Regions from separate parts of the Homo sapiens genome. Here regions 2, 3, 4, 5, 6 and 7 are each reported to be linked to region 1. Evidence: microRNA targets listed by miRTarBase, many of them from high-throughput screens and not tested one by one. Region 1 holds a microRNA gene; each other region holds the end of a gene's coding sequence. Distances are from middle to middle.

Region 1 (4,058 bases):
CTCACCCACCGCACCCGCCGTGCGGGACCCCTGCGTCTCACCCGCCGCACCCGCCGTGCGGGACCCCTGCGTCTCACCCACCGCACCCGCCGTGCGGGATCCCTGCGTCTCACCCACCGCACCCGCCGTACCTGCCGCATCCGCCATGCGGAACCCCTGCGTCTCACCCACCGCACCTGCCGTGCAGGATCCCTGAGTCTCACCCGCCGCACCCGCCGTGCGGGATCCCTGAGTCTCACCCGCCGCACCCGCCGTGCGGGATCCCTGAGTCTCACCCGCCGCACCCGCCGTACCTGCCGCATCCGCCATGCGGGACCCCTGCGTCTCACCCACCGCACCCGCCGTGCGGGATCCCTGAGTCTCACCCGCCGCACCCGCCGTGCGGGATCCCTGAGTCTCACCCGCCGCACCCGCCGCACCTGCCGCATCCGCCATGCGGGACCCCTGCGTCTCACCCACCGCACCCGCCGTGCGGGATCCCTGTGTCTCACCCGCCGCACCCGGCTCATGGGAGTTGGGAGCAGCTGTGCCTGTTAAGCACCAGTATTTAAAACAGCACACCAGATCAGGTGCGGTGGCTCACACCTGTCATCCCAACACTTTGGGAGGCCGAGGCGGGTGGATCACCTGAGGTCAGAAGTTCGAGACCAGCCTGGCCATCATGGTGAAACCCCATTGCTACTAAAAATACAAAGAAAAAAAAAAAAATTAGCCAGGTATGGTGACGTGTACCTGTAGTCCCAGCTACTCAGGAGGCTGAGGCAGGAGAATTGCCTGAACCCAGGAGGTGGAGGTTCCAGCCTTGGGGACAGAGCGAGACTCTGTCTCAAAACTTTTTTTAAAAAAATAAACAGCATGCCAGACTGAATGGCAGCGACCCAGACGCCCCTCTCCAGCCAGGTGGCACTTGTCCCTGCGGCCAGGGCTACGGAGGGGTGGGCAGCCCCAGCCCTGCCAGAGACATGGCTGGGAGCATGGGGGGTGCTGGGAGCTCCAGGTTCCCGGACTTCAGAGCTAACAACCCCTGCTCAGGAGCTGGGGAGCTGCTTCTGGCACCACGGAGGGGCTGGGGGTGCGGCTGGGGCCATGGGCTCACTTTGCCTGTTTCCTCTGGGCCCCAGTGGCCGCCCCACCTGGCCCCCTGGCAGGGCTGGTTCTCCCAGGCAGCATTTTGTTACTATTTTACTAAGCGGTTTTATGACTTGGAAATAACGTTATTCATACGACTATTAGCACCAATAATAACCCCTACAACCTTGAACCCGCAAAGCCTCGTCCAAACAAGACAAACTCCAGCCATCGTCCCCGAAGACACAGCCACATGGAAACTAAGCCCAGTGTACAAAACTGGGCAGAAAACCATCCAGCGTCACGCAGGCCTGCAGCCCTCGGCCTAGGAAAGGTCCTGCAGGGCAAGAGGAAGAACAACCCCACAGGACAACTGAGTTCCACGGGAACTGACACAGAAACACAGAAGGTTGTCGGTGAGGCACGAAGCCGTGCCTGGCCTCACTCACAGCCCGACACAAACCAGGAGCAGGTGCTCGGGGCCTCTGCCATACCCAGGGCTGGGGGGCTGGGGGGCTGGGGGACTGAGGGACTGGGGGACTGGGGGGCTGCGGGGCTGGAGAGACCGCACCTCCCAGGCTGCTGCAGGGGCACAGGTGGCTTCCTGGGGGACAGCGTGACAGTCTCTATCCAGCTTTATGTCTTCCCAGCACCCACCTCCAGGAGTCCAGGCCCCTGAGGACCTGCAAAACCATGCGCTGGGGTCACGGGAGCCGGAAGAAACCAGGACTTTGCGGGTTCTGACTTCAAGACCAGTGTTGTCGGCGTGATCCAAGTGGGGTCAGAACCCACAAAGTCCCGGGACCGCCAGCAGGACCGGAGGGGAAGGCACAGCCGTGGATCCGGGTGGGCTGGTAGCGAGCAGGCATGGTTCCATCCAGCACAAGGGGCCCACCAGATCCCCAGGATCCAGAGCTCCATGCTTGGGGGCCGGGGGCAAGCGCTCCAATGCCAGGCCTCCGCCCATCAACCCCGTCCTCTCCAGGCGTGAAGGACGGGACGAGTCTCTGTCCAGGCCCTGCCTATAGCTGACCGAGGGCCTGTCTGTCCCACGTGACAGCTGCAGCCTGGCCTCACTGACCAGTGCCCCTCTCCCCGGGTCCCGACTGCTGATGTGTGGTTTCCAGCCGTGGGAAGGTGAGCCCATCTGGGGAGAGCACCCAAAACGGGAGGTGCTCAGAGGTGCACCCACCATGGCAACACCACTGAGGTGTGAGGTCCTGGACGGGGTCCCGGGCCGAGGAGGACACGGGACCATGGAGGACACGGAGATGCTGATGCCGGCTCTAGGGCAACACCCACACCCGTGTTACACGAGGTGTCCACAAGCAACACACGGGGCTCTGTGCTTTCTGTGATGTCCTGGCGATTCCAAAACCAAGCCTCCTTGACCACCCCGCAAGGCCTGGCAGCCCCCGCCACAATCGCCACCACCTTCTCCTCCCCACCTCCACCTCCACCTCCTGATCTCCCCCTCCACCCCCACCTCACGAGGCCACAGCCCTCCCGATCTCCACTTCCCCCTCCACCCCCACCTCACGAGGCCACAGCCCTCCCGATCTCCACTTCCCCCTCCACCCCCACCTCACGAGGCCCACAGCCCTCCCGGGCCGCCCCCCACCTCCTCCCCACCTCCCCCCGGCCTCCTCCCCTCAAGCCCTCGGGACTCACCATCTCCACCACCTCCACCTCGGCGCTGATGCGCAAGTGGTACAAGAACATCTGCAGGTCCTTCTTCATCTGGATGCTGTTGTCGTCCACCTGGGCCACGGTGAAGATACGCATCCGGCACTTCCTCCACACCTGCAGACAGGGAGGGCATGGCTGTGGGGCCTCAGAGGAGCCCGTCCCGGCCCGCAGCACGTGGGGTGGCCGTGCTCCGGCTGGCGTGTCCCCGTCGCACGCCCCACCTTGTGCTGGCGCAGCAGGAAGGGCAGCAGCATGAGCATGCCGCCGTCGTGCACGATCCACCACACGTCGATGTGGCCCCCGCCGAAGCGCTCCTGGTTTTGCGGAAACGAGTCGACGTTCTTGGCCACCAGCAGAGCCTGGTGCGCGGCGGTGGTGTCGCGGACGGTGTCTGCGGAGAGAGGCGGCCGTCCGCAGGTCATCTGAGGCCAGGGTGCGGAAGGGGCCTCCCCGGGGACTCACAGCCAGTGCAGGGGCGGGCACGGCGAGGCGAGGGGGGTCCCCACAAAGCCCCCACCCTCACTCCGTCAGCTCCTCCAAGGACCAGCCAGAGACTCACAGCAGAGTTCAGCTGCTGGTCATGTGTCCAGGGAATCCCCCAGCCCCTGCGGGGCTCTGGGAGAAGGGGAGGGAGTGCCTGGACACTTTCAGATGGCCGCTCCCAGGGCCAGGGCCTTCGACAGCCTCAGAGCACACACCCTCGGGTCGGTGGCCTCAAGGCCCATCGGGACCTGACAGCGCACAGGCCTGGGGACGTTGAGGGGACAGCGAGGAGACAGAGGGGACGGCGAGGAGACAGTGAAGGGATAGCGAGGAGACGGTGAAGGGACAGTGAGGGGACGGTGAGGGGACAGCGAGGAGACGGTGAAGGGACAGCGAGGGGACGGCGAGGAGACGGTGAAGGGACAGCAAGGGGACGGTGAGGGGACAGCGAGGAGACGGCGAGGGGACAGTGAGGGAACGGCGAGGGGACGGCGAAGCGACGGCGAGGAGACGGCGAGGGGACAGCGAGGGGACGGCGAGGAGATGGTGAGGGGACCGCGAGGGGACGGCGAGGAGATGGTGAGGGGACAGTGAGGGGACGGCGAAGAGATGGTGAGGGGACGGTTAGGGGACAGCGAGGGGATGGCAAAGGGATGCAGAGGAGACTGAGGGGACACGGGACAGTGAGGGGACAGCGAGGGGAGGCAGAGGGGGACAGTGAGGGGACAGCAAGGGGACACTGAGGAGACACACAGGGGACAGTGAGGGGACGGCGAGGGGATGCAGAGGGGACACCAAGGGGACAGTGGGGACGAAAA
Region 2 (4,066 bases), not on the chromosome of region 1:
AGAGCTCTCAGCCTCTTTATTTGTCCCCTGAGGCTACTTAGGGGAACCTAGAGCTCCAGAAAGTACCATTAGGAACCACTGGGCTTCAAGTTCTCTAACATTCGGACACGTTGAGTTCTTCCACTTCTGAAACCCTAAGCAAATGTTTAATTTCTAAGGATTTCACCTCCAGAATCTGGGATTTTGGAATATTGCTCTGGGAAAGATGAGGAACAGCATTCTTTAAGAAGACAAGAAATAAGGCAAAGATTTTGAAATGGCTCCTTGCACATGGGGAGCTGGAGGCAGCTGCTGAAGAAAGCAGTGCCAGCTCTGTCTTTAAGGCTGTTTAAGCAGAATGGAGCCCTTCTGCTTCAGTTGGGCTTGATCCTTCCAGCCCAGGGAGAGGCAGCGTGAAGTGGGGAGCTCCTCTGATTTCAGGCTCTTTCCCCACAGGTGCCAGTTAAGCCTGGGAGGATATCCCTTAGCTGTCCGGACATATACCTGGGACAAGTCCACCTATGGGAATGGCAAGAAGTACATCGCCACAGCCTACATAGTGTCTTCCACCTAATAGAACTTCGAGCCAGAAAGGGGCATGAGGGCTCTTGCGAGACTGAAGTGCTATCTTCTCTGGACTAGAGAGAAGAGGGAGAGGACTGGAAGGGATCACCAAATCTCAAAGCAATGAGAAGCATTCCTAAATCCCAAAGTGCCCACATGGGAAAGAGATAAAATGTACAAATTAGAAAAATGTGGATAAACAGTCAAACCTTTATCCTCTAGAATTTTGGCAATGTTGACTAAGAAACAGAGTCCAAGCAGAGAAGGTAGGAACCCTCCATAGCTCTCTGCCCTGATGTGTGGGGGAACTAGGAAGAAGTCCTTTGACCTCACCAGGCCTCATGCTTCCCTTTAATGTAAAGGGAAGGGGTTTGCCCACTTTCCTCTTTTTGGGGTTGGTGAGAGGGCAAACCCTGATATTTTTACTGTGAAGGTGTTTTCAGTTGTTCTTAGGAAGAACAGCTGATAGAAATTCAAGATTACTATAATGGCTGTTATTATACACAGCTCTGTAAACTACCACTCAGCCCTGTGTTGGGGTCCTCAAAGAAGTAAGGCCACAGTAATCAAGCAAGGGCCTTTGGTTTTTTCCAGAGTTAGATCCTCTCAGAACAGAGTCTGGGAGAACTCCAATGCTGAATGGAGAAGGGTAATAGGTTGGTGCAGTGAATGGGCTGGGGGTGGGGTGGCCTTCTCCAGGCCTGAGTGTTTTTGTGTCCAGCTCAGTATCTGCAACAAGAAGTTTCCCACTTGTGGATGTTTAGTGCAGCCACAGACTTGTATTTTGATCCCCAATTTTTTTTTGAAAGAGTTCTCCTCATAGGAGGATGATTCAGCATCAGAAGAAGAAGGAACCCATAGCTTGGTGTCATTAACATAATTATTTTAAGCCTTATCCAGCAGCCATAATTTGAATAACTCTACGAGACCAGAGAGACTGTAGTTCCCTATTTTAACCTCAATTATGCATTTGTCCCCCAACCCCACTGAGAACTAAATGCTGTACCACAGAGCCGGGTGTGAACTATGGTTTAGAAGGTTCAAGTTTCCAATTAAAGTCATTGAAGAAAACTTGAAATGAGTGTCTTCTTTGTATATGGCCTCCCTCCAATGTCTGTCTCCCTGCCTTTTCCCTAGAGCAGGGCTGGCAGTGATACTTTTGCTCTAGAGTCTTTTCAGAATGGCTTGAAGAATGTGGTATCTGGGTGAAGTCTCTGTTGACTCACTAAGTCTCTCTAGCCAAGAGGGGAAGAGAATTCTGTAATATGAAGAGTGGAAGGATCATTGCATACAGATAGTGAGGCGGCCGGTGGGGGGGTGGTAAATGGAGATTGGTGGTCCCCATCCCCAATAACCAGTCCCCTTTATCAAATACACAGGAGTATAAGGACATTTCTGGATGTAGCTTCTGTGGTTGCAGAGGTTGACCACACTGGGGGAAGAGGAGATGCTAAAGAGATACAGAAAAAGACTTCTTATCTGTAAACAGATTACTCAAGCCACAATGCTAGAAAACGGTCAGGTATGAAGAGATACCTCGGGCAAGTTTATAGCCTGCAGATAGATGAAACAGGGCCTTGTCCTGCCCTTTCCCAGAGATGTTCACAGTCAATAGGCAAGACAGTGAGTCAGTAGAGCACAGGGGTAACAGGTACAGGCTCTGAAGTCATGTTGCCCAGGTACCTAGCCAGGCTCTGTTGCTTACTGGCCATATGAGCAAATTTCTTAATTATTCAGATTGTTTCCTCACCAGTCAAATGGGGATAATATTACCATTGTTGTGAGATAAGGAATGTGAAATAACATGCTAGTCTTTCTTATAGTAATTATTGTCTCACTTATTATACAGATTTAATTTTATACTGGGAGAGGCAATTTACTATCCCTGCTATCAGCCTTAACCTTCACCTACTGGTGCCCAGTACTTGTGCTCTTCATAGGCCTCTTCAGAGGTCTTCCAGGTAGTCCAGTAGGAGACAGAAAGACAGAAATGCAGGAGAGAGTACTGTATTCCAGGGTCTGGGCCTTAGCTTTGCAGGAGAGAAAGGTAAGAACTAACATTTGTTAAGCTGTTACCATGTCCCAAGCTGTGCTAAGTAGTCCTTTTATATTCATTTTCTCACTCTGGTGGGTATTTTTATCTTCACCACTTTAATTTTACCTAGACAACTGAGGATCAGATTAAGCCACATTCTTAGTCAGTAGCAGAATCAGGATTGCAAAATTCAACCCTTTTCCTCATGTTGTAGTGAGCCTGGATTTCTAGTAGTATCTACTCACTTATTCATTCATTATTTTTTAAAGAATATTTATTAAGACCCCTGACAGAGGCTGCTGGTTACCCCTCAGTATCTGCTCTCCTCTTCTTCCTTATTCACTGAAGTCTCAGTTTTTAGGTACACAAATGACTGTCAAGAGTACAGACTCTTGACCTCCCTTGCAACCAGAAGTAGGCGTGTGTCTATGTCCTCACCAATGGCATGCAAAAGGAAGTATTCTTAATGGGCAGGGGGTACCGTTATTCCCACTCTTGCCCTTTTCTGCCGACTGGATTTCAGACAAGATCGTGGGAGCTTGAGCAGCCAGCTTGAACCATGAATGAAAGCCATATGCTGAAGATCACAGAGCAGCCAGGAAGGAGCCTGGGTCTCACACCGAAACTGTCACACTAATCCTGGATTGCTTATATTCAGTTTTACATGAAAGAAAAATAATCTTTCATGTTTAAGCCACTCTTATTTTGGGCTTTCTGTCACATGCAACCAAACTTAACATAGTATCTCCATAACAGGAAGTCCCAAGGTTCATTTTCTTCCTAAAGTTACTTAGCTAATACTTCCTTTCTTAAGATTTACATTAACTGTCAGACTCTTTAACTATTTGAAAGAGCCCAATAATTGTTTTGGATATTAAAATTAATAGCATTTACAATCATTAATTGCAGCATTTTATTGTTGCAATAATAAACACTCCTGTTTATTTCCACTGACCATTACAACTGCAACACATAAAACACATAAAGAGGTTTGTCTCTTTGAAAATAACTCTTCAGGTATTAATGATAAGTTCAATTGAGATGACTGGAGTAAATGAATAAAAGAGACTTAAAAGAAAGGCATTATTTACACATTTTGTTGAAATCCATTTAAAGATAACTGCCAATAGAAGTGGGGAGGTCTGCAAGGAATCTAGGAAAGAACTTAAGGTGGCCTAGGTCTGAGCTCACAGGAGAGAAGGCTGCCATTGCAGGCACAGGTTTTGTGGGACAGCAGGAGCCTCAGAATTAGGTGATGATGACCATCAAAACCATTTGATTAACTTTTCTCACTTTGACTCTATATTCACTAAGCTACTTCTGATTATTGTATGGTTTGAGAGAGAAAAAGAGAGAGAAAAGCAGGGTCACCTAAGGGTCTATGAGGTTTTACTAGAGCAGCCAGCTAGCCCCCTTATCTCTCTTCTCAATCAACTCTGTCAGAATTAATAAAACAAATGTGGTTGCTTTTGTTAAAAACACCAGTAA
Region 3 (4,068 bases), 56 Mb from region 1:
GTGAAGAAACAATAATGCCTTTATTATCAAGTGTTAAGCACAATTCTTATAACAAACTGTGATAAATTCTTTTTGTTTTTTTTTCCTTTGCCCCATTATTTTCTTATGAACAAACCAAAAATTCATGGTGAGCAGTTGCAGTGTTGGCTGATATATCTTTTATGTACAGGGAATTTGAAAAGGACAGTGGATTCATTTAGAAGTGTAACTGGTGCTGTGATTATAGCAATACATTTGTTAGTTGTACTTCATCTTTTTCATGCTAGCTTTTTAAATGTTTAGTTTTCCTCTTGTCATGGTCAGCTGCTGAATTTACTTGAAGGATGTAGAATACTGTTTAAAAAATACTAAAATTTGTACAATTAGATCAAAGAATTGTGCAATCATTTCCTTTTTAATTTTTAAAATGTTGAGGCTCATAAATATTTGAGAACATCAGATCTAATAGAGCATAGTGATACTATTTAATTTAACCAAAGTCTCTAGTGAATATTTCAACTTTGAATGTAAACTAACAAATAAACCTGACCACCAAGGAGATTGTTTGCCCAGAGTTTCAAAGCACATTGTCTACAAATGGAAATTGAAATAATTTATAAAATATTGACGTTACTATGTTTTTTAAAAAGTTCCTAATTTTTTCACTAAATGGAGGAAACTATTAGTTTTATTGTTAAATATGGTAGATATTAATATTCCTCTTAGATGACCAGTGATTCCAATTGTCCCAGTTTGAAATAAGTACCCTGTGAGTATGAGATAAATTAGTGACAATCAGAACAAGTTTCAGTATCAGATGTTCAAGAGGAAGTTGCTATTGCATTGATTTTAATATTTGTACATAAACACTGATTTTTTTGAGCATTATTTTGTATTTGTTGTACTTTAATACCTGGTGTACAGTTCCAGAAATAAAAATCTGGGAATCTTTTTTTCTTGGTTTGTGTGAATATTTGCCAAAAATACAGATATTTTATTTAATGAATCTTAAGCTACAGCAAATAGATAGATATTATACCACTGTTAAATTGGTTTTAGATGCAGTAAATAAGATATATGATAGATAGTGAAGTTGGTAGATTAAATATTTTCCTTAAATCCTCTATAATTTCCATCTATAATAAAAGTCCCCCTGTAATCCCAACACTTTGAGAGGCCGAGGCGGGCAGATCATGAGGTCAGGAGTTCAAGACCAGCCTGACCAACATAGTGAAACCCCGTCTCTACTAAAAATACAAAAATCAGCCGAGCGAGGTGGCGCATGCCTGTAACCCCAGCTACTCAGGAGGCTGAGGCAGGAAAATTGCTTGAACCCTGGGGGTGGTGGTTGCAGTGAGCTGAGATCCTGCCATTGCACTCCAGCCTGGACAACAGACTGAGACTCCATCTCAAAAAAAAAAAAAAAAAGAAGTCCCAAAGTAAGGATTATACTTTTAGTTTAATTCAGGAAACATTTATTATGTTTCAAACGCTGTTCTAGGTAACTGTCTTTTATGAAGACAGACAGATCTGAAATTTGGTCAAATATTATTATTATTTGACAGACTACATTTATGGTCAACTAGTCTTCCTTATCCATACGATTCATAGTTTGACCGTAGTCATATCTATCTTTCCTAAACATCTTTTTAAGCTAAAGCTCCTATCTTGCCATTATTTCACAAGTTTGTCCCCATATTTCATTTCCTCTGACCAGAGCTTTATGTAGTTCCATTTTTAAGATGCAGTGATCAGCTTGCCCATAATATCCAAAGTTTGTACAAGGCCAAGAAGGGGATAAAAGGAAAGCAAAAATCTTGACTCCTCTGCTTTGGTTACTTGACTAAAACCACATCCCTTCCTTGTCAGACACGAAAGGACCTTAGCACATAGGGCTCTGTGGTGGACACATGCACAGAAGTGCCTTCAGAGCAGGGACAAGCACACATATTCCGAATACAGCAAGAATGCAACAATGTGCCATGTGAGAGCTCAGAGTATTTTCAGGCTTTAGGAGACGGAAAAGCCTGTGGAAGCAGGATAATCTAGTACATCTGTTACTAGAAGTCATTTTGGCCATAATTTCCATCTATGGTACGCTTTTTGAGCTTGCTGGTGGTAAGTGCTAAAGAGAATGAGGAATATGTCAGGGTTGGGAGCAGTGAGGGATTGTAAATTTCAGTGGGGTGATGAGGCAACGCTCCTCACTGAGGTGACAGGAAGGGAGAGAACAAGCTATGTGGCTGTCTGGGGGAAGATGTTTACAGGCAGAGAGAACTAAGTGCAAAAGTCCTTGGTTGGGAATGTGCCTGGCAGGTTTGGGGAGTGGCCAGGAGGCAGGTGTGGGTTGGGATGGAGTGAGCAAGGGGAGAAAGGAGAGGAGCTCTTGAGGTCATGAGCAGGTTATGCATGTGAAGGACTTCAGCATTTACTCCATGATAGGGAGAGGGTTTTGAGCAGACGTATGTCAATACCTGACTTTCATTTAAAAGAATCACACTTGGTGATATGTTCTGTAAGGGGGACAGGAGTGGAAACAAGGAAGGCAATTGAGAGGCTACTGAAATTGCAATAAACTAGGTGAGTAAAGCTGGTGGTAAGGAAGTGAAGGTAATCAGAATCTGGTCATATAGGTTCCATGAATTTTTGAGGGATCCAGTAAAGAACACCCTCCTTCCTATCCAAGTTTGGAACTGAGAGAGCTGGAGTCAGGTCGATGGAGGTCAAAGTAACTATTGCTAATAAAACGGGAAGGTAGCTTCAGGGCTGCAGCCAGGTTGGCCTGCCAATATATTACACCTCTGGACTCACTCTGTCACTGGCTGGGCTGGCTACAGGCTATTCTCTGCACAAGGCAGAGAACTGCCAGGACACATTCTTTCTGCTGGCAGCCAGAGTCCACAGGGAAGGAACTAGAAGGGTATATAGGACATGGGTGCCTAGTTATTCTCCAAACATAATCAGGGAGTCAATCTCCCTCCAGTGGGTGGAGAGAGAGGCTAGGAACATTAACCAGTGGAAGCCCTCCACATGAAGACATGAGACACGGGGAATAAGTGTTCCTCCCACCAACACTATCTTGCACTTTTTTTCCACCTTTTCTTTGGTGTGAAAATGTTCAAAGAGTAAAGAAAATAGTAATAATGACCTCACATTTTCCCCTCAGCCAGCTAGAGCAATCTTTACATTATACATAGACACACCAATTTACTCATGGCAACACAATAGGTATTTTTTACTCAATTCTGTAAAAATAAAGTTTTTACAGAAGTTTGTACACATCAGCAGTACTACAAGAACTGCTGATGCCTGGCTACAATTTTATAAACCACCACAGAGCTTACAAAATAAACAAAAGAAAAATTGAAATTATAAGTTCAAAGAGTAGGTTTTAATTTAATAAGCTATTGTGTATTTAGGTGAAAACCAATTAAACTTGGAATTGCATTACAAATTTGAAATTGTAATGAAGCAAGTAGCTTTTATCATGAAATTGGAACATAAATATAATATCAACAAAAACATAAGAAATTCCTATTCCAATTAAGTCTCAAAATATTTGTTTTACAGGTAGAACTCAGAGAAGTGATTAACAAAAAACACTTAGAATTAATAGCTGAGTAGAAAACCTAATAATTTCTGATTCACAGAGTTAGCTGACAATTGTGTAGTAGTTTGAAAAAAGCTCTTCTCCTTGATTGATGTCCCTAAGTGCGACAAGAACAACACATCGAAGTGGGCTGAAAACAAAAAGATATACAAAAGGTAGAGCATTAACAAATATAAGCTCATATTTTTAATATAACCAAGATGGCTTTTATAGAGGTAACTTTACTCAGGTTCCTTCCATTTTAGTTTATGCATTTGATTTCCATGAGGAAATAGTTCTTATTCCTGATGCAGGTATTCTAAAGAGTATATCTATATCATTTAAAAAATCACAAATCAATGTTTATACAACTGACTACTTCTTCTGAAAACATTGTTTCTAAGTTTAGGCCCCCAAAACTAGTATCACAAAAAGGATTTTAAAATGACATTATAGTTTTTCTTGCATTCATTTGTATCTTATATCCTGAAAAATGAAAA
Region 4 (4,068 bases), not on the chromosome of region 1:
ACCGTATTTATTTTTGGGAAGTGGGACACAACACCAGAACAAAGGGATGCCTTGACTGTGGATGTGATACTCATCTGTGGTATTAAAACATTTTATAAAAAGCATGTGCCATTTTTATAATTTAAAAAAACCCCTAAATATTATTAATAAAATTGACATGTAATAAAATAAAGATGCTGTGTCATTTTTTAAAGCCATGAATATTATAAGGGGTCTAGTAAATAAATAAATTTCAGAAATTCGTTAGGCAAAGGGACTCTCACTAGGTCCAGATGAAAATGAAGTGATGTTGAGTAGCTCCCAGCACAGGCAGATCTGCCAAAGCAGCCATTCTGAAAGGATAAGGAGCAACAGGTATGTACGGCTCTCCATCAGTCATTACTAATTTCCATCACTGTGCATTTGCCAGCTAAATTATGTTTCAAAACTTGCACTGGTTTTTGGTTATCACATCTACAGAGGAAACATAAGCTCTGAAAGCAAAATTCCTAGTCATGGTATTTATTCCATTCTTGGCTTACTAATCTTCTCTCTTATTCTTTATGAAGTCCTTGAATACGATAAAGCACAGTTTAACTGTGTTCTATTTTGTTAAATGCACAATATTAAAATATAAGCTTGCAAAAATGACTACCTTTCAGGTTACAGAATGTTGTCTTTTAATAACTCTTCATTTTCCATTCCTCTATCAACCACATCTAAAAATGGAATCTCAAAGCAGTCAGTGCCATGACACAAAGAAACAAACACAGAGGAGTCAGCCAAGCTAGCTGCCTCTTCAGTGCTGTCTCAGTAGGCTTTGTAGAAATGATATTTCTATAGGTACATATTTTTATGTCTGTTAAAGTTACATGGCACTTCAGACCAGGACTAGATCACTTGCTTTCCTGATGTCCTAATAGTAGGGATACAATATACTTAAGCTGAGATGGAAACTCCTAGACCATAAGGCCTTAGCTCTTTCCAAAGCCCAGGACCAATTTTTAAAACATGCTACAGGAGGTGGTTTAATGTTGAAGCCATTAAACATGTGGTTATTCTGCTCACTTTATTTTGGAAATCCCAAGTCCTAGTGGTACTTGCTTTTTTCAAAGCGATATATCAAATATTGGTCTCCATGAATAACACAGGACTCTAATGCCTTTTTTTTTTTTGGTTTGAAAAAATTTCCAAATGCATCAGGAATCTTACAGTACCAACTCATCATTTTTCATAACACAGATTTATGTCTTCAATTGGAGCTATTTAGAAATTGGCCCATAGCCACCTGTACCCTAAATTTTCTCTGGGCTACTTGGAAGTATTTAGAGAAATGTGAGATGGTAGTTGATGAAAACAGAGTTCTTCATCCCAACAGTAACAGCTAGATAACTGACTGCTTGGCCAAACATTTGACTCAATCCAGGGAATGGAAGATGCCATTCAAAGCCAGATTCCAGTTTGTGTTAAGGATTATATTTCTGTCATCACATTTCCTTGACAGTCCCGCCAACTAAAAATCCCCCAGCAAAAGCCCAGTGATTAAATTCTCCTGGAGCATATTTTTCCAGCTTCTGGAAACAATCTGCTGCAGTGTCTCCTGTAATATCCAAAGGATAGTTCCATTTCTGAGGCTGATATATGGAAGTAGATTACTCACAACCCAATCCATCCTCCCACCAACAATTTGATTTTGAAATGACTATGGAAAGACTGTGGTAATAAAATCCCCATCCACTGAAAGGCTGTTCCTGTTTAATATAGCACGTCATAGCCGCACTTTCAAAATGATGATATGTTACCGAAATGTGACTCAGATAAGCAAAATGTCACCATTAGACTTTTAAATTAAATGTAGAGACACTATCATTCATGGTCATATGTAGAAACATTAGGGAAGCACTATGCTATGTCCAAGGACAAAATGAAAATAAGCTCAGGAGACGTCAGATTTCGCCAAAAGTAAAATCCTTGGACACCTACTTTTATTTTTGACTTACCCCCAAGTCAAGTAGATATTTGGACAGAAAGACAGACATTTTCTTCTGATATTTTAGGGATCACAGAGTCCCTAAGAGAGGTACCTGTAAGTACCATTCGATCCGTGGCAGGTTTAGATGTTACAATTCTAACTATCTGACAGACATTTCTGGCTAGATTCCAATGGTGGTTTGCACTAAGGACTTTCTGAAAAGGGAAAAATAAAGTAGATAAAATAATATATTAGACTACCCCATACATAGAAAATGGGGTTATTAAGTACGACCTTTGGACCTGACAAATAATAGTTGAAGCATCCTTCTGAATGATCCAGGCATCCCATAAATCTGGCAGTGGAACTCATACAACAAGCCTTTGTTCTTGGGTCAAGGATTACTTGGAGTAATGAAAACCAAAAACCTAAAAGAAAGACCTAAAATGGGGCTCCTCTCACCACTGTATCCAACAGTCTATAGTTATTAGCCTCTGTGCAACATTCCAATGACTGTTTCCTATTTCAGTGACATATGTTGACATATGTTGCTACTTTTGCTTTTGCTGTTTTTTTTTTCCAAGTCAATTAGGGTGCTTTCTATTATCATTCAACAAAGTTTAGAAGTAAACATTGTTAGAGTGCTCCATTTCCTGTAACCACAGTTCCCACACAGGATTATTTGCTCTGCAATTTAAACAGCACTTAAAATTGAGTGGTTCTGCAAACTAGCTGTGGGCCTCTGTTTAATCCTTTGCTCATCTTCTATTGCAGCAAAAGGCAAAGATGGCTACACATAGGCAGTACGGAGCTGTACAGACAGCCCAAGCTGAACCAGTCCTGCATGGCTATTGGCTACAGCCCAGCAGCCTGGGCTGACCCCTGGGTTACCTCTCTGAGGTACCTCCAAGCACAGACATCTCCCATGCCACCTCACCATTCCTCAGAGATATAGCACACAAGTTGACATTATCCATGTGGCACTTCCCAGCTCCTATATAATGAAACGGAGGGTTGGCGGGTGAGGGGGACATGCAGAGAGAGTCACTAAATAGTCTTGATATATTTAGTCTTAGAAATGGAAGTGGTTTTACAGTTATATTTCTGCAGGACATTCAGAAGGTTTTAGAAGGCCTTCAGACAATCTTGTGGTCTTCCAAGACTGAATGTAAAGAGAAGAGATAATATTTTTCTTTAAGTTGATGGGTAGTTACAGTAGAATTGTATGGTACAGGGAAAAAAACCAATGCATAGGGGGAGGATGGAGCAGTGCCATTTATACGAACATCCTTTGAATCTTTAAAATAAATTATACAGGTGAACACAGAAGTTCATGCTACTTGCTGGAAGCAATAAGGATCAAATTTTGTGGAACTCGTACTGTATTCCACAAATCTCCAGGTATCCTGCCTCCTTCTCAATGGGCTATCATGTTCTGTTGTACATCTTGGTAGCCCTTAAAAGCTAGTGGCATGGTCTCAGGTAGATTCTTGCAGGAGAGAGACAGATATATGAATTCCATCAGCTTCTTCCAGGGGAGCTGCCCAATTGCAGGGAGGGCAGATGTGATACGCTTGCTCATGTCCTCTTTGCCCGAATACCAGGGTCAAACAGCAGTTTCCAGGTCCTCATGGCCAATGACCTTATAGTTCTGACGGCTTTCTAGGTAAGCAGCCAAGTCTGGGTCCCCAGCCTGCTGTGCTCTTTCTTGAGGTGTCTTACCCTATACGAAAATAGTGAGAAAAAAAAAAAGAGAGAGAGAGATAGACACAAGCGCTAGTCGTGAAATACAAAAACAAAAAACAAAACAAAACAAAAATCACAGAAACAGAACTACGCAAGGATACCTGCTAGTAAGGATCCTTTCACATTTGGTGTTTTAGAGTTTACAAGACACTTTCAAATCTATTGTCTTATATGAGCATTAAATTGAACATGTGCGATTGGTAAATGAAAGGGAAAGAGTTTATCACTTTTGACGGGTGGGGTTTATACTAGGGAAACAGAAGTTCACAGAGGTTAACAGTATACAGAAGGAAACAGTGGGGTAAAGCGAGTTTTGAAACCCAGAGCCTTTCTGGAAGATGGGGAGGTAGAAATTACTGAATTTAAAAAAT
Region 5 (4,068 bases), not on the chromosome of region 1:
AGCGATTTAAAATGTTTTTGAAGCAATTTAAAGACATTCAAGGTCTCATAGCATCATGCTAAATGAACATAGTGGAATGTCAACTCTATGCATTAAGGCTAGGTAAGGTTAAAATGTATATATTATGTGCATCAAAAGAGACCTGAAGAAAATCTCAAAACCATCACCAGAAGCTTTCATCTTTTTTTTTTTTTTTTTTTTTGAGGTGGAGTTTCGCTCTTGTCGCCCAGGGTAGAGTGCCGTGGCGCGATCTTGGCTCACTGCAACCTCCGCCTCCTGGGTTCAAGCGATTCTTGTGCCTCAGCCTCCTGAGTAGCTAGGATTACAGGCACCTGCTATGACGCCCAGCTCATTTTTGTATTTTTTAGTAGAGATGGGGTTTTGCCATGTTGGCCAGTCTGGTCTCAAACTCCTGACCTCAGCTGATCCGCCAGCCTCAGTCTCCCAAAGTGCTGGGATTATGGGCATGAGCCACCATGCCGGGCCCAGAAATTTTCACTTAATGTGAAATTATGACTAACTTATTTTCCCAAGTTATAAAAGTGAGTGTATATTACTTTTGTAATCCTAATTTAATAGTTTTCTAAAAGTACTGTCTACCCCACAGCACTGCTTGATGTCTTCTGAGTGACTCCAAGGAGAGTAGCCTTTTCTATTTTGGCTCTATCCATCTTCCCATTTTCATTGATCACTGTCTCCCACGTACTGCTTTCCAGCCACATGGAACCTCTCACCATTCTTTCCACACAACAGGCCTTTTCATCACTCTGTGCCTTGGCATTTGGTGCTCCTTCAGCCTGGAATACTCTTTACTCTCTTCCATACTCACTCTTCTTCCAAATGCACTTCAAATGCTAGTTTCAGGTTCCTGAAGACACAGTTAGTCTTCAGGACTGTGCTCTGTAGTTGTTTTACACCTGCTCCAGCATTTATCATGTGGTCATGTGACTCATTTACAACTTGCCTTCCCCACTAAATTGTGAGCCTGTCTTGGGGTAGATGTATTATTTACTGTTGTATCATTACTACCTAGCACAAAGCCGACTATGTGCTAGGTAGTGGTGATACAACAGTAAACAATACATCTAAATACACTTATTTAACGTTCTTATTACAAAGAATGCTAAATAAGTTAATTTAAAATTTACTGTTATCTCTTTTCAAAAAGAATCAAAGGCCAGATGCAGTGTCTCGCTCTTGTAATCTCAGCACTTTGGGAGGCCGAGGCAGAACGATTGCTTGAGCCCAGGAGTTCTAGACCAGCCTGTGCAACATGGTGAGACCCCATCTTTACAAAAAATTTAAAAATTAGCTGCACGTGGCATGTGCCTATAACCCTAGCTACTCGGGAGGCTGAAGTGGAAGCATCGCTTGAGCTTAGGAGATTGAGGCTGTAGTTAACTGTGATCACACCACTGCACTCCAGCCTGGGTTATGGAGTGAGACCCTGTTTCAAAACAAAAATAAAAACAAAAAACAGGCCGGGCACAGTGGCTGAGGCCTGTAATCCCACCACTTTGGGAGGCGGAGGCGGGTGGATCACCTGAGGTCAGGAGTTCGAGGCCAGCCTGACCAACATGGCAAAACCCCGTCTCTACTAAAAATACAAAAATTAGCTAGGTGTAGTAGTGGGTGCCTGTAATCCCAGCTACTTGGGGGGCTGAGGCAGGAGATTCACTTGAAACCTGGAGGTGGAGGTTGCAGTGAGCCGAGATTGCACCATTGCACGCCAGCCTGGGTGACAAGAGCAAAACTCTGTCTCAAAACAAACAACAACAACAAAACCCCCAAAAGAATCAAACTACTGACTAAATAATGGATGAACGGACTAGTGGCAAGGCTACCAATCAAAAACTAAAACAAAAACAAAAAAACAAATCTGTGGTACTTGGCCATCCAAGCTCAGAAAAGGAATGATGTTGGAAGTAAGTTCTGTGTAAGGCTATTATACAGAGCTGAAAATGAGATAATTTTGTAAATACCAGCAAAAGACATCCTGCCCTAGATGGCATGTCTTTGGAATTTTGAATTCTGTACCTCACTGCCTGATTACAACTATAAAGGACCTAAGATTTGATTTTACTTGACTTACAAAGGCTAGTAAGTTAGGGTTTGCCACAAGGAGATGCTGAATCTGGGGGACAAAAAGAACATGAAAGGGCTCCCGTTTCCCAATCTCCTGAGATCGAATGTGTTCCCTCTCCAGGTGCTAGGGTCTCCGTGGCCATGCAGTTGGTGTGTCCCATCCCAGTAGCCATGTCTATACTTTTTCTCCAATCGTGCCCTACTTGCTTCCAGACATCTTGTCTGGAAGGGTCAGATGTAAGAGGGACAGGGGCATTTTTGCAAAATTAAAGAGAACCATTATATCCTATCTTGGCCTGTGTAGAACCCTGTAGAGGGATCTAGAGAACAGTGTACTTAACTAAGTAGTCATTATCGTCATGATATAGGACCATGTTAGTCCAATCTAGCTGAACCAGAATTAAATTTGAATTCCCTAGGCTGTCTTTTTTTAAGTAGTCGAAGGTGGTCTCTCCCCAGGGACATCTGAAGGGTATACCAACCAGGCTGGCCTGAGGATGTTGTCAGGGAAAAAAAGATGCATCATGTTTAGCAATAGTCAGTGTAGAATCTTGAATTTTCAAAATAGGTTCTATAGCTCTCCACCCTTATGGTCCAGATTATCACCTAGGAGACCAAGAGGAGATGAACTCTTTCTGGGGAAGGGTGCATTTAGTGACCATACTGCCTTACTAAGGTGTGCAGTGAGAGTTAGGGTTAGAGTCAGAAATCTTTTTGAGTTGATTTTTGAGAAGGCCTTTCCAATGTTCAAAATGATACCAGATACCTGCAAATGGGAGTGTGAAATGTCCATTGAATACCTTGACTAGTGGTCCATTGTTGAATGGCCTTTGCAATCCCTTCTCCCAAGTCTCACCGGGGTGATGTGAGCCAGACAGATGTCACACATGCAGGGAGTTGTATTACAGGAGGGGTAACACTGAGCTCAGGGACTCCACTGCTTTTATAGCAAACAGTAAGCAAGCTTGCTCTCTGTCCTGATGGGAGACATCCCTTCATTTTTCAAGGTTGCTTGCTGCAACCTAACCCTGAGAAATGTCTTGGATAAAGAGTGGTGAGAGCCTTGCATTCTTGGCATACTTAGCAAGGTGTGTAGGAGTACAAGAGCCTCACAGAAAGGAGCCTCCCAATAGATATGCTCTGTGAAATGATCAGTGCTCTCTCATTCCATGCCGATGACCAACACTTATTAAAAAACAGTTGATCAAGTAATTCCAGTGAAAGAAGAGGATCTCTGGAAGTAATAAAAATTGCTCCCTTAATTCATTCTTCTTTTTTAGTGCCTTCTGTCTAGTGTTTTTTCAACCATAAAATATTTTTTCTTTAGGCTCTTCAATTTTCTTCTAAAATAATAAAATTGTCTTTCATGGGCCTCTGATGACTTAACTTCCTTTTTTTCTTAGGTAGTCTCCTGAAAGCAAACACAGCATGGTTATTATTTATGAGCTGCAAATTATCACTACAAATGATTCATTCATCCATTTATTATTCCACAAACATTGCCAGGTGACTGCCATGTGCTAGGCACTGTGCTAGGTACTGGAGAAACAAGGGTGACTGGATAGTTGAAACACAGTTCCTGCCCTCATGGAGTTCACTGTCTAGTAGGGGATATAGGCACACACAAACATCAATTCTATTTCATGGTAATAAGTGCCATAGTAGAGGTATTTGAGTTGTCCTGGAGTATGAATTGGGTTCCCATGCAAAAAAAAAAAAAAAAAAGGATGAATAATGCATATGGCTGGGCAAAGGGAACAGGGTGAGAGAGGGCTCAGGAGAATAAAAGAAACTGCTGCCCTCCTCTCCTATATGTATTCTATGACCTAGACTTAAAACTGATTACGGCCAAGTGTGGTGGCTCATATCTGTAATCCCAGCACTTTGGGAGGCCGAGGTGGGTTGATCATGAGGTCAGGAGATCGAGACCATCCTGGCTAACATGGTGAAAATTCATCTCTACTAAAAATACAAAAAATTAGC
Region 6 (4,063 bases), not on the chromosome of region 1:
CTTTTGTTATGTGGTTTTATCTTTCAATATTTGCCCTGTTAGATATTAAAACAGAGAACTTTTCTTTTTAAGATGAAGCTGGGGCTGGGCGCGGCGGTTCAAGCCTGTAATCCTAGTACTTTGGGAGGCCGAGTTGGGGGATCCCCTGAGGTCAGGAGTTCGAGACCAGGCTGGCCAACATAGTGAAGCCCCTGTCCCCACTAGAAATACAAAAATCAGCTAGGCGTAGTGTCACCTGCCTATAGTCCCAGCTACTCGGGAGGCTGAGGCAGGAGGATCACTTGAACCTGGGAGGCAGAGGTTGCAGTGAGCCAAGATCACACCACTGCACTCTAACCTGGGTGACACGGTGAGACTCCATCTCAAAAAATAATAATAAAATAAAAGATGAAGCTGGGCTGGGCTCAGTGGCTCACACCTGTAATCCCAACACTTTGGGAAGCCAAGATGGGAGGATCGCTTGAGGCCAGGAGCTCGAGACCAGCATGAGCAACATAGTGAGACCTCATCTCTACCAAAATACAAAAAATAAAAAATAGTCAGGCATGGTGATGGGTGCCTGCCATCCTATCTACTCAGGAGGCTGGAGTGGGAGGATCATGTGAGCCCAGGAGGTCAAGGCTGCAGTGAGCCACAATCACACCATTGCACTCCAGCCTGTGCGACAGAGCAAGACCTTGTCTCAAAAAAAAAAATTGTTTTTTAACTAAAAACAGATGAAGCTGGAAGGCCAGCCTGTAATCCCAGCACTTTGGGAGGCCAAAATGGGTGGATCACCTGAGGTCAGGAGTTCGAGACCAGCCTGGCGGGCACCTGTAATCCCAGCTACTCGGGAGGCTGAGGCAGGAGAATCCCTTGAACCTAGGAGGCGGAGGTTACGGTGATCACACCACTGCACTCCAGCCTGGGCGACAGAGCGAGACTCTGTCTCAAACAAAACAAACAAACCAACCAACAAAAAAAATGGCAGAACAGCTCAAATGCTAAGCCAAAGACTGGGGGCTTTATCCTGTAGGCAAGAGGGAGTTGTTGAAAGTTTTGAGCAACTGAGTCCCGTGACCACATTTGCATTTTTGGAAACATTACCAAGTCAGGATTAAAGGCTGGAGGGCAATTAGGAGGCCTTGCAGTAGGTCACATGTCTTTTCATGTGGATTTAATGAGGAAGGAGTCAGAATATAACAGTTTTATTAATGGTGTTGGATTTTACAACCAAATAATCCCTTAGCTATATTGTTTTATTTTCTAACATGAAAGAGCTTCTACCGTTAATCCTCTCTTCTGTCTCCTGAAGCCAGGGCTCCACAGGCCTTCCTCTGGGAGACACACCCAGGTGTGCCGCCTTCCCCTGCCAGATCCTCAGGCCTTTCTTACCCAACTCACAACTTCCCTTTCACCCTTAGTCCCATACCCACCATCTCCCGAGAAAACCTCCGCAATGGGCTGCCGGGGCCCCAGGCCCTTCCACCCATCCCGCCAGCACACCCTCCCCGTGAAAATGAGTGACCCCAGGCCAGCGTCTTCCCTCAGGAGAGAAGCCTGTCTGGATCCCCAAAGGCCTCTCCCTCCAGGGAAGAGGGACTCTCACTCTGGCCTCAGTGGTTACTCCAGAGCCCAAGAAATGCCCTGTGCGCTAAAACCAAAGAAGGTGTGAACCAGCAAGTAAGTGGGGAGCGGCCAGTTCTGGGACATCTAGTTGGGGGCCTTCTCTTCCCCATGAGCAGCAGGGACCAGTGTGACCTTGGCATCAGGCTCTTTCTCTTGGCTGGCTTCCTCAACGTTCAAGACGCTCGATAAACATATCCCAGAGGCAAAGCAAGTTAAGTCGAGGGTTGTTTATTCACCTAGAATCAGCTCCAGCCATTTTCCAATGTCTTCTTTTTGTTGTTTTTCTGGTTTTTGTTGCAACAGGGTCTCACTATGTTCCCCAGGCTGGTCTCAAACTCCTGGCCTCAAATGAGCCTCCTGCCTCAAACTCCCAAAGTGTTGGGTTTACAGGCATGAGTACCCAGCCCTTAAGTGTCTTTGCTTTGGTTTATGTTTGTTTGTTTCCTTCCACTCCTGGTGCAAACCTTACATGTTTTTGACTGGGGAAACATATTTTGGACCTATGCCTCTACACTGACAGTGAAGAGCCCAATGGGTTGTGCACTAGGTCAGGGCTTCCCGCAGCGTCAGCCCCTGTGGCCAGCAGCGTCACCTGGGAACCTGCTAGAAATGCACATTTTTGGCAGGGCGTGGTGGCTCACACCTGTAATCCCAGCACTTGGAAGGCCAAGGCAGGAGGATCACCTGAGGCCAAGAGTTCAAGATCAGCCTGGGCAATGTAACGAGACACCATTTCTACAAAAACTAAATTAAAAAAAAAAAAATGAGCATTTTCAGCCAGGTGCAGTGGCTCATGTCTGTAATCCCAGCACTATGGGAGGCCAAGGCGGGTGAATCACTTGAGGTCAGGAGTTCGAGACCAGCTTGGCCAACATAGTGAAACCCCTACTAAAAATAAAAATAAATAGCCAGGTGTGGTGGCGGGCGTCTGTAGTCCCAGCTACTTGGGAGGCTGAGGCATGAGAATTGCTTGAACCCTGGAGGCAGAGGTTGCAGTGAGCCGAGATGGCACCACTGCACTCTAGCCTTGAGTGACAGAGCAAGACTCTGTCTCAAAAAAAAAAAAAAAAAAAAAAAAAAGAAATAAAAAAAAGAAATGAGCATTTTTGACCTGTCCAACCTACTAAATCAGAAACTTAGCACCCTATGCTTTAACAAGTCATGGCTAAGGGCTTTAAAAAGGTGATTTTAATGCATGCCTAAGGTGGAGAACTAAGGAGAAGGCTTTTGGGTAAGGTGAATCTGGAGCGGGGGACCCAAGGCCTAAGGAGGAGGGGAGTGTGAGGCAAAAGGAGCCCCTTATCTACAGGTTCTCAAGCTCCTCCCATCAATCCCCCAACCTGGCCCTGTCCCTCCCTCGCTCAACCTTAGTTTCTTCCTGGAATTCTCAGGCCTCCTGGTTCCCAAATTCTGATTTCCCCACTGACCTGACTCCAGATCTCCCTACCCCACTGGGTCTTGTCCCCAGCGTCACTCCAACCCCTCACCAGCAGTCCCCAGGCCATGCCAACCCCCACACTTTTTTTTTTTTTTGAGACAGAGTCTCACTCTTGTCACCCAGGCTAGAGTGCAGTGCCGCAATGTCTGCTCACTGCAACCTCCACCTCCTGGGTTCAAGCAATTATCCTGCCTCAGCCTCCCAACTAGCTGGGATTACAGGCGTATGCCACCGCGCCCAGCTCATTTTTGTATTTTCAGTAGAGAGGAGTTTCACCATGTTGGCCAGGCTGGTCTTGAACTCCTGACCTCAGGTGATCCACCCGCCTCCGTCTCCCAAAGTGCTGGGATTACAGGCATGAGCCACCAAGCCAGTCCTACCCCACGCTTGTCAGTATTCTGGGAGATCCCCCAGTTCCCAGCCCCCTGGGCCCTGGCAACCCGCTCCCCACCCTTCTCCCGTCAGACCCGACCAAGGAGACCTAAGCTTCAACCCAGGCCCCCGCGCCCCTCCACTACCCGTCCGGCGGCTCAGGCCTCGGCGCCTTCGGGACCCACGAGCAGCAGCGGCTGGGCATTCTTGCCCTTGTCGTGCCAGCACACGTCGAAGAAGGGGTACACGGGCCTGGGCAGGCGCTCGTGGAAGGCAAAAAGCGGCACGAGCGCGTCGGCGTCGCTGGCATCGTAGAAGGAGAGGACGCCGTCGCCGAAGCTCAGGTAAAGGCCAATGCGCGTGGGCCGCCTCTCGGGGCTGCGCAGAGCGCGCGGCTCCTTGGCCTCCACGTGTGCCTCCAGGATCTTGCCCTCGCGCAGCCCCAGCAGCCACAGGCCCTGCGAGGGCACCGCGTGCAGGCGCCCGCGGCGGGGGGCCTCGGCCGCGATCACGCCCAGCGCCCAGCGCGGCTTGTCGCCAACATCCACCTCCCAGTAGTGCTCGCCCTCGGAGAGCTGCTGGTGCGCCACCACCGCCACCGCCTTGTCGAACTGGCGCGGGTCCTCCCCGGCCGGCGGCGCCTTC
Region 7 (4,068 bases), not on the chromosome of region 1:
TGATTATTCCATTGTCTGGTTGTATCACAATTTGTTTATCCGTTCACCTACTAAAGGAAATCTTAGTTGCCTCCAAATTTTGGCACTTATGAGTAAAGCTGCTATAAACATCTGCATGCAGGGTTTTGTGTGGACATGATTTCAACTCATTGGGTAATTATTATGGAGCACAATTGCTGGACCATATAGTAAGGGTATGTTTAGTTTTGTAAGGTTGCTGTACCATTTTGTATTCCCACCAGCAATAAAAGAAAGTTCCTGTTGCTCCACATCCTTGAGAGCATTTGGTGTTATCAGTGTCGTAGATTTTGGTCATTCTAATAGGTGTGTATTGGTATCCCATTGTTGTTTCAGTTTGCATTTCCCTGATGACATATGATGTGGAACATCTTTTCATATGCTTATTTGCCATCTGTATCTCCTCTTTGGTGAGGTGTCCAGGACTTTTGCCCATTTTTAAATCAAATTTTTTGTCCCTTATTAAGTATTTTTTGTATATTTTAGATAGCAGTCCTTTATCAGCTATGTCATCACCACCATCTAGATCTTCTCCTATGTTATCTTCTGAAAGTTTTGTAGTTTTGCATTTTACATGTAGGCCTATGATCTATTTTGAATTAATTTTTGTGAAGGGTACAGGGTATGTAACTAGATTTCTTTGCATGTGGATGTCCAGTTGTTCCAGCACCATTTGTTGAAAAGACTATCTTTTCTCCATTGTATTGCTTTTGCTCCTTTGTCAAAGATCAGTTGACTGTATTTATATGGGCCTATTTCTGGGTTCTCTATCCTGTTCCACTGATCTGTCTTTTTTGCCAGTAGCATACTGTCATGATTACTGTAGTTTTATAGTAAGTCTCAAAGGTAGTGTTAGTTTTCTGACTTTGTTGTTCTCCTTTAATATTGTGTTGGCTATTCTGTCTTTGGCTTTTTTATAACCTTTAGAATAAGTTTAATATCCACAAAATAACTTTCTGGGATATTGATTGGGATTGCATTGAATCAATAGATCAAGTTGGAAAGAACCGCCATCTAAACAATATTGAGCCTTCCTATTAATGAATATGAAATATATCTTCATTTGTTTAGTTCTTTGGTTTATTTAATCATTTTTGCAGTTGTCCTCATATAGATCTTAGATACATTTTACTAGGTTTATACCTAAGTATTTTATTTTGGGGGTGCTACTATGAATAGTATTGTTTTTAATTTCAAATTCCACTGTTTGTGGCTGATATATAGGAAAACGGTTGACATTTTTTAGAGACAGGGTCTTGCTGTGTTGCCCAGACTGGAGTGCAGTAGCTATTCATGCAGCAATCATAGCTCACTGCAGCCTCAAAACTCCTGGCTTCAAGTAATCCTCCTGCTTCAGCCTCCTGAGTAGCTGGGACTACAGATACATGCCACTGCACCTGGTTTGATTGACTTTTGTATACTAACCTTGTATCCTGCAAGCCTTTATAATCACTTATTAGTTCTATTATTGTTGTTGTCAATTCTTCTGGGTTTTCTACATAGACAATCATTGCATCAGTAAACAAAGACAGTTCTATTCCTTCCTTCTCAATATTTATACCTTTTATTTCCTTTTCTTGTCTCACTGCATTGGCTAGGACTTCCAGTACAACTAGGACTTCCAGTGCAATGTTGAAAAGGAATAGTAAGAGAAGACGTCCTCGCCTTATTCCTGATCTTAATGGGAAAGCTTCTAATTTCTCATTATTAAGTATATGATGTTAGCTGTGGTTTTTTTGTTAGCTCATTTCTTTATCTAGTTGAAGTTCTCTATTCCTAGTTTCCTGAGAATTTTTATCATGAATGGGGTTATTTTGTCAAATGCTTTCTCTGCTATTGATAAAATTCATGTAATTTTTCTTCTTTAGAAATGTTATTTTCAAATGTTGAACCAGCTTTTCATACCTGGGATAAATCCCACTTGGTCATGGTTGAAATTAAATTTTTTAATACTAACAATAAAATTGATAATTTATATATTTGTAGGTGCTTAAAATTTTACTAAACCCCAAAATCCCATTAATGGCTCCTAAAACCTCACTTTTATGAATTTAATTCTGATTTTTTTGGGCCAAGAATTTCTCAGAACAAGTACTCCTTCAGGAATTTGAAATCTCCCAATTTATCAAAATATTAGTATACTTTTCAGAGATCCACCCCCAAATTCATATATTCTGTCTATACATGCAAACACATAATTTACACCAATATTTTACGGTTAGATTGGTATAAAACAGTAGTCTCAGAACAGGGTACAAAATGTCTTTATATCTTCAATCTCATTATACAGCAAAAGAGGGAGGAGGAAAAAACTAGGAGACATAGATAGATACACTGATGGATGTTTCAAAAATTATTTTTATTGTTACATTCCAAAGAGGACATAGGAAGAAAAAAGCCAGTTATCCAATAATGGTTAGACCTTTCAGAAGAGGCACCCACAACCCCAGCCCTAGTTCAAAGCTGCACACATTGGAGCTCAAACAGCTGCCTCTCACCACGACCGGAAATGCTGACAAATGTGTATATATTATCAATCCAGGGAGGCTTGGGTTTAAAATAAAATTTCTTTATTGCAAGTGTCCAAGTCCTTAGGATTTGTCCTTAAAGGTACTAGAAGATGAGTAAGACCACACACACCAAGACTATGTTTAGTCTTTAGAGTAAACTAGCAAATGGCCAGTTTGTTCTAGGATGCATTGCATCAGACATCACAGTACATGAAGAAAATCTGCTTTTTGTGAAAAGCCACCAGGCATTTTAGATCCCGTTTACCATGAAGTGCAGACACAGCAGATACCCAGATAATACAGTCAGTGCAAAAGTCAAATGAGTAAGTCAGCTCTTTGATGAGGCTGGCTACACTGCAAAATATAAATGAAACTCGAAAATAGAAGGTAAGGTCTATTTACAAAAGTTTGTTTAGTAAAGTGACTTGAAAAAAGTTGTTAACCACTTCCCAGGCATCCCTCCCCTCTCCCACCAAAACAAACAAACAAAAAACAACAACAACAAAAACCCTGAAAATTATCTTGAAAGTCAAGTTAAAACTATGTGGTGAAAAAGAGAGTGCTTGTTCCAGGTAAAGGACTTCAAGATAATTTACAGGCAGATTTATTTTTATTAGTAAAAGTCACAAATAGGAAAAGACTTATTGGCTGACTTTGAGCTGTGTGCTTTTAAAAATGTCTCTATTATTACGTTAACAAGAAAAAAAAATCAAGCAAGTTTTTGCTTCCAGTTTTGAATCTTCCAGCAACAGTTGGTGAAATCAACAAGGTATTAAAATGAAACCCAGCAAAACCCAGTCAGTTCTTTCCAGTTGTCTGCCTGTTTCTTTCTAGTCACCTTGAATTCAATTCCCAATTAGCTGAGGACAACATGCCGGTCAAAGACAGACTTTCGCTGCTCTTGGACTTGAAGCTTCCAGCGCTGCTGTGCATATTCTACCTTGTTCAGCACGTTGGCTCGACTGCGGGAGCGGGCTAGCACATCGTGTGCATTTGCAAAAGGCTGGTGATCCTAAAAGTCCAGGAATGGAGAACATTAGAGATGGCACAGTCAGTGTAAAACATAGACACACAACAGTGACCAGCCCGCCACAGAAATAGGGGTAGGTGGACTTTTCAAACAACAGAGCATCTATTTAGCTAAGCACTCCTAAGCGCTCAACTACCAGATAGAGTATGAACTCAAGTACAGACCTAGGTGGTTCAAGAAACATAAGCGATGACAGAGTATTTGTGAAACGTTCCCATGGATTGCCATTTCCAAAGATATTTCCCTTAAAGAAGTGGAGACCAAGCAAAAGACAGTGGTCATTTGTGTTAAAGAGAAGCCTTCCTTAACTGATAGGGAAAAGAAAATCTATTTTCATGTTAACATCTCTCCATGTTATAGATATGGAAAGTAGGGTCTTTCCTTGCTTTATTCGATACTATAAAGCTAATCTGTGGCAGAGGAAAGATCTGTCTTTTAATTTCCTGTCTCCATTAGAATTGTTTTCTTGCCAGCTTGGGGCCACATCACTCTGGGAGGGTGAGCGACAGA

Evidence for each region. The annotated mature microRNA hsa-miR-4635 reads UCUUGAAGUCAGAACCCGCAA and lies in region 1 at 1,800-1,820, opposite strand. An mRNA with a match to its seed (bases 2 to 7 or 8) in the 3' UTR can be bound and repressed. Matches are read on the target gene's strand: a 7mer-m8 pairs with bases 2 to 8, a 7mer-A1 pairs with bases 2 to 7 and ends in A, and an 8mer does both.
Region 2: the mRNA of ENDOU is a reported target of hsa-miR-4635. Seed matches in the 3' UTR shown: 7mer-A1 at 1,016-1,022.
Region 3: miRTarBase lists SETD9 as a target of hsa-miR-4635. The part of its 3' UTR that is shown has no 7-base or 8-base seed match.
Region 4: miRTarBase lists DGKI as a target of hsa-miR-4635. The part of its 3' UTR that is shown has no 7-base or 8-base seed match.
Region 5: miRTarBase lists PFN4 as a target of hsa-miR-4635. The part of its 3' UTR that is shown has no 7-base or 8-base seed match.
Region 6: the mRNA of TRIM72 is a reported target of hsa-miR-4635. Seed matches in the 3' UTR shown: 7mer-A1 at 3,340-3,346.
Region 7: the mRNA of TMEM9B is a reported target of hsa-miR-4635. Seed matches in the 3' UTR shown: 7mer-A1 at 3,049-3,055.

Annotation. Positions count from the first base shown.
Region 1 is chr5:1,061,105-1,065,162 of GRCh38, forward strand. It overlaps MIR4635 (microRNA 4635), which reads right to left and starts at 1,870; the gene lies at 1,792-1,870. SLC12A7 (solute carrier family 12 member 7) reads right to left here. Exons shown (of 24, transcript NM_006598.3): 19 at 2,979-3,148; 20 at 2,740-2,871.
Region 2 is chr12:47,707,289-47,711,354 of GRCh38, reverse strand. ENDOU (endonuclease, poly(U) specific) reads left to right here. Exons shown (of 10, transcript NM_001172439.2): 10 at 436-1,621. The coding sequence ends at 553. All of the region lies in intron 1 of RPAP3-DT (RPAP3 divergent transcript), which reads right to left. Among named protein-coding and RNA genes, the nearest start is that of RPAP3-DT, 3.2 kb to the right of the region's middle.
Region 3 is chr5:56,916,466-56,920,533 of GRCh38, reverse strand. SETD9 (SET domain containing 9) reads right to left here. Exons shown (of 6, transcript NM_153706.4): 6 at 3,186-3,719. The coding sequence ends at 3,632. MIER3 (MIER family member 3) reads left to right here. Exons shown (of 13, transcript NM_001297599.2): 13 at 1-931. Among named protein-coding and RNA genes, the nearest start is that of SETD9, 8.9 kb to the right of the region's middle.
Region 4 is chr7:137,387,663-137,391,730 of GRCh38, forward strand. It overlaps DGKI (diacylglycerol kinase iota), which reads right to left. Exons shown (of 33, transcript NM_001321708.2): 33 at 1-3,674. The coding sequence ends at 3,558. Among named protein-coding and RNA genes, the nearest start is that of PTN, 46 kb to the left of the region's middle.
Region 5 is chr2:24,112,116-24,116,183 of GRCh38, forward strand. PFN4 (profilin family member 4) reads right to left here. Exons shown (of 5, transcript NM_199346.3): 5 at 2,694-3,496. The coding sequence ends at 3,468. It also overlaps a transcript of FAM228B not described here. Among named protein-coding and RNA genes, the nearest start is that of PFN4, 9.2 kb to the right of the region's middle.
Region 6 is chr16:31,224,269-31,228,331 of GRCh38, reverse strand. TRIM72 (tripartite motif containing 72) reads right to left here. Exons shown (of 7, transcript NM_001008274.4): 7 at 1-4,063. The coding sequence ends at 3,577. Among named protein-coding and RNA genes, the nearest start is that of PYDC1, 9.2 kb to the right of the region's middle.
Region 7 is chr11:8,944,936-8,949,003 of GRCh38, forward strand. TMEM9B (TMEM9 domain family member B) reads right to left here. Exons shown (of 5, transcript NM_020644.3): 5 at 2,267-3,540. The coding sequence ends at 3,385. Among named protein-coding and RNA genes, the nearest start is that of ASCL3, 4.0 kb to the left of the region's middle.